Regions from separate parts of the Homo sapiens genome. Here region 2 is linked to region 1. The links come from fine-mapping of genetic effects on gene expression. A gene starts in region 1. The other region holds a variant in brackets. All regions are shown on one strand. Distances are from middle to middle.

What was found.
Region 2: its variant is fine-mapped to the expression of EBAG9 in whole blood (TOPMed, PIP 0.98).

Annotation. Positions count from the first base shown.
Region 1 is chr8:109,538,761-109,541,790 of GRCh38, reverse strand. EBAG9 (estrogen receptor binding site associated antigen 9) reads right to left here and starts at 1,618. Exons shown (of 7, transcript NM_004215.5): 1 at 1,330-1,618. EBAG9UORF reads right to left here and starts at 2,065. Exons shown (of 1, transcript NM_001436381.1): 1 at 1,991-2,065. The coding sequence starts at 2,065. The coding sequence ends at 1,991. RefSeq lists an enhancer at 1,250-1,609 and a silencer at 1,670-2,219.
Region 2 is chr8:109,571,754-109,574,253 of GRCh38, reverse strand. SYBU (syntabulin) reads left to right here. Exons shown (of 7, transcript NM_001099754.2): 7 at 1-276. Among named protein-coding and RNA genes, the nearest start is that of EBAG9, 33 kb to the right of the region's middle. The variant T/C (reference allele first, on the strand shown) is at 1,195.

The DNA.
Region 1 (3,030 bases):
CTACTATGTTTCAGTCGCTACTTTGGATTTGGAAGCTGGGAAATACTACCAACTCCGCATGGGGAAACTCTGCGTTCACTCCCAGTTGTCATGAGCTTGCCCATAAACTTATCCCTGAGGAATGCAAGAAACTAAGGAGGCAGGACGTCCATCAGTCTTGCTCATTCTGGTATTTATAGGTCTCAGTCAAAGCCGGGCACATAGTAGGTACTCAAATATTTGTTGAATGGAAGGAAACTAACATTCCTTGAGCACTTGAACGCTCAAGACAATGTTCGATCACCTCACTGGAATCCTAAGGACAACCAAAAGAGGTAGGTTTTTCACTACTCCCGTTTAATAGATGAGGTTGACAGACTTAGATTCACTTACCCAGGATTTAAAGGGACTGACCCGAAAGCCCAAGGCTCTCCCTACATCATATCCTACTTAAGAAACCTTTTAATTGTGTGCACATTGCCTCAGTGCGATTTTTGAAATGCCCTCTAGATCACCAATTTGATAAGTATCTTACGCTACTTTACACTTTAGTTGCTTTAAAACACTTTCTAGAACGGAACAATGTTAATATAATCTAATCTTAACATTAAATTTCCTTAAAAATTACAAAGACAAAAATTTGAGGTATATCAGAATGAGATTCAAAACTATGAGGCAATGTATCCTCATTAAGGCTTTTTGAAGAAATGACAACTCTAGGAAATCAAGAATGAGAGCTCTGCCATGTTAACGGAAAAAAAATACAATTAAAAAAAGAATGCTACATTAGAAACTGATAGATCAAATGTATTATATCTTTTCTTGTTGAAATTCTCGGTAAACTGCTAGAGGTCCTTTCAAGTAGCCTCAATACATCACAATTCACAAAACAAGCAAAGCCAAAATCTATGTTCGGTACATACTAAACAGGTGCTGTATTTCTAAAACTCTATTTACGAATCTTTTCATACCAAAATTTGAAAACCATATGATCTAGTACAGTCCAGAATATCCTCAAACTATAACTCTCTGAAGTGGGTTAGAAAATATTACAAAGCTCCCAAAATAAAATTTACCTGAACTCACTTAAATTTGATAAATAAAGGTTTGAGCAGCGGCCCGTAAGAGAAGGGGAAACAGAAGCGGAGTGTGAGAGCTGGTAGTAAAATCGAACATTCTGTGCCATGTCTGGCAACCGAGAGTCAGGCCCTCAAGTATGTGACACCACTGGGGCGGTTCCGAAGGCGGAGTAAGGTCTCCAGAATAACTCAAAAGGAAAGAGTTTCATAACTTAAGTGGTTTCATTTCAGATTACCCACGTGAAATTTGTTGATGAAAAAAAAATCATACCCACTGCACAGATGAGAAAAACAGGAGCGTTTTCAGGTTATACAAGCCGACGCCTGGCGCCCGGCGTGACGTGAAACGCTCTAAGTTGCTGGAGCTGGATACCAGGTGAACTGAGATTTAAATTGTGGAAAAATCGGCCTGGAGAGGTACAAGGCCTGTAGACGGAGGGCAGTAAGGTCACGCAAATTTCCCTGAGGAAGGCGGCTTTGGAGGCTGCGTGCTTTCCGGGCCGGTACCCCACAGCCCAGTCTCCCACGCGTGAGCGGAGCATGGCGAATGCTGCACGCCTGGGTCCCGCTCCCAGTCGCAGTTTCCTCACCCCAGAGGTCACCCTGACCCGGAAACAGTACCCAGAGCAGCTGTCGGGCGTCGAGGGAGGTCTGGTGGAAGGGCGAAAGGAAGGTGGGAGGGCGGGAAGTGCGCGGCTAGGCGGAGGGCCGACGGCGAAGGGCAGACAATGCCCCAGAGGCTAGGGCTGGGGTCGGGATGGGGGTAGGGAGAGGAAAGCCCCTCCCAGGCACGCGCGAACCGCACACACTCACCTGCCCCTCCCCCTCCCCGCCCGCCCGGCGGAGGCTCCGAGCTGCCGCGGGCCGCGCGCGCACACAAGGCGCGCTCACGCGCGCTGCCTGTCTCTTCCTCGAGCTCGCGCTCCGCCCGCTCACTCCCAGCCCCGCTCATTCAAAGCCGGGCGCGCGCTCCGTAGCAGCCTGCGTTGCCTCTGCGCAGCTGCCATGGCCGCCCCTTCATCGGGAAACCCGCCCCCAGCCCCTCCTCTAGCCCCGCCCCCAGCCCTCCTTGAAGGCGGCTCTCGGCTGTCTCCAGGCCCTCGCTTCTGCACTCCGCCTCAGGTCCTGGCTGGCCCAATAGGTGAGAGGCTACGGGTCTGACGTCGAGACTGGGAGCCAATGAGCCCTGGGAGCGGGGCAAGCGGCGACAGGCACGCCAGGTTCGGTGAGGGGTAGCTTTTTGGGACTATTGCGAGCTGCTTTGACTGTTTATTCTCGGAGCGCCTGCTTCTGCCAGATGTCCCTACTTTCCTTCTATGCAGAGTGCCTCCCCTCCAGCAAAGTCCCTTTCTGTTCAACCCACAGAACCCCTGTGTCAGATGCGACCAAGGAAAATACACTGCAACAAATGAGGGATCTCCCTCTGTCTCAGGAAGATTTGGATGTGGCTAGACAGACCCCCTCCCCTCAGTCATTCCGCCACCTCAAAGATGTGGAATGCTGAGTTTAATTCAAGACGTAGCCTCCTCCCAGTAATTTTTAATTGAATTGTGTTGAACTAGAAATGAAGAAGTGGCACTTCACCGTGTCCATGCATTTGTTCCTCACATGCACCCTGGACTTGCCCTTCTTTCAACCTGAGATGTTCTTTCCTTCAGTGCTTCTCTCTTTGCAGCCTGATTCTTCTTTTTATCTTGTATGCTATGAAAGGGGTTGTTATGTGCAGGGGACCCTCAGAATACTATGCTCCACAGTTGCAAAGTGACTGGTGAGGGAGAAGTGAATAGGGTCTAAGGCCAAAATCAGTTTATGCAAATTGTTCTCAACAAGCCTTTTTCTTTATATGCCTTTAATTTTTTTTTTTATTACAGCTGCCTTTGTTCTCCCACCCTGACCCAGCAACCACCTACCCACTTAACTTTGTGATAATCTACCACAACCGTCCTCTTTCCAATTTGCACCACGTTTTTTA
Region 2 (2,500 bases), 33 kb before region 1:
CCACACACTTCAGCATGATGAAAATAAAGATTAGTGTTTCCATTTAAATAAATGTTTTATCCTCCCATAAAATAATAATTATTTCTGTGATTTTACTTCTATGTATAAGAAAGACAATGAATAGCAGATCTTACATCTTTATCAATAGGGGGTCTGTAAAAATTGAATTAAATTAGGAAGAGGGAAAAAGAGTTAGTTATTAAAGAAAATGAAGATTTCCTACCCTTACTTAAAAAGCATCATTTCTGAATAAAAGTAGATTTGTTTACTTTTAAATTGCCCATACACTATTTTGTCCATATGTTTATGCAGTAAGTACATCTTGAGTGTTTTCAGGAACATTGGGTTGATCTAAGCATGCTAGGTGTTCAGGAGAGGGAGAATATGGTAGTGCCATATAGCTTCCTTCCCCAGAATGATAGGATGAGGGTGGGTGGCTGGGAAGGGATGAGAAGGTATTTGATCTATGTTCATCTAGTGCTTACACCAAAATTTTGAGATTAGTATTTTACACATATCTTTGAGGGAACTAAGCCTCAAAGAGGAAAAATGTTCAGGATCTCAGAGCTCATCTCCAGAAGCCACGATTTCAAGTGTTTGCAAAAGCAAATGCCTTTTCTACTTTGCCACACAAAGGGAGGATAAAGAGGCTGGATAATACCCCAAGTTCTCATCCAGAAACTCTTCTTCCATAGCACTTAACACCTTTAAATATACCACCCTTTTACTTACAATGCCTTGGTTATTACCCATCTTTCCCACTGAGATATTAGCTCCATGAGGGCAGGGATCTTTGTTCTGTTTTGTTCACAGCTGTATGTCAAGAACCTAGAACAAATGAAAGAATAAGACTTAGAATTTGATAGCACAACAGGGAACCTATAATCAATAATAATTTAATTGCATATATTAAAATAATTAAAATAATATAATTGGATCGTTTCAACACAAAGGATGCTTGAGGGGATGGATACCCCATCTTCCATGATGTGACTATTGCATACACATTGCATGCCTGTACCAAAATAGCTCATGAGCCCTATATAGACACCTACTGGGTACCCACAAAATATTTTTAAAATATTTTAATTTTCTACAAATAAATTAAAATTTAACAATAACTTAGTACAGCACCTGGCACATAGTGGGAAGTCTAAAAATTGCTGTTGAATGAATTAATTAATCCAGCAAATA[T/C]TTACCAGGTACTCCGATGCTAACTGGGCACTTTCCAGGATGGGTCTTAAAAAGTGAAGGAGACAGAAAAGGTTTCTGTCCTCAGGAAGCTTATGTTCTGTGTCTGTGAGGGACACAACATGCCATCAAATAAACAAAAGATGGTTTCAGATAGTGGTAAATGCCTCAAAGGAAATAAGGTATTTTGACCAAGTGTGGCAGAGGTGAAAGTAAGGAACACATCTCTGAAGAAATAACATTGGTGGGAATGGATGAAAAAGAGTCAATCATGCAAAAATATGGGACAAAATCTTGTTGCAAGAGGAACAAATGCAAAGGCCGTCAGACAGAAAGGACTCAGAGTGTGACAGGAGCATCCTGGAGGTCAGTGTGGCTGGAGCAGAGTGAGAAGGAAGGAGAAAGTTGGAGTAGACAAGAAGCTGCTTCATATGGGGCCACACAAACCATGGTAGAGGTTTCAGTTTATTCAAGAACGCCATTTAGGGGTCTATTGTAATGTCCAGATGAGAGATGATGCCAATTTGGAGGTGGAAGTAGATACAGAGTTTAAGTTGAAAAATTACAGATATAGCTTGAAGATAGAACTAATGTGATTTGCTGATGGATTAAATGTGGAGTAAGGAAAAGAAAAAAAATAAGGGTGACTCAGGTTTTTGGCTTGAGCAATTGGATCAATGGCGGCCATATTTGCTCAGAATGGGAAGAGTTCAAGAGAAACAAGTTTGGGAAAAATAAAACTGAGATGTCTATTAAAACATCTATGTGAAGATATCAAGAGTAACTGCATATATAAATGTGAAAATCAAGGGAGCTGTCAGGACTAGACTTATAACATTGAACCTTTCTGGCATTTGTGTGGTAATTAAAACCATGGGAACAAGTGAGGTCATCCAGGAAGAGTGTAGAGAAGGAAAAAAGGTCAAAAATGGATTTCTGAGGTACTTCTATATTTAGATAGAGGTGGAGGATGAAGAACCAACAAAACAGCCAGAGAAATGACAGCCCAAAATGTAGGAGCAAAACTAGGTGATTAGTAGTATAAAAACCAAGAGAAGAGAGTAATTCAAGAAGAATGGAGCAGTCAATTGTGTTGAAGTCCCACCAAGAGATTAATATGAGAATAGTTACATATTCACCGGCTTTGACAGCAAGGTCTTAATGACTGTGTCAACATCATTCCTTGGAGAAATGGGGATGGGAGGCCAATTGGAGCAGGTTGAAGAGTGAATGGAAGCGAGAAAGTGAAATATGTGCTGCTGAATTTTTTTGTTTTATTAAGTTTTACAATTAAGGAGAATAGGAAATT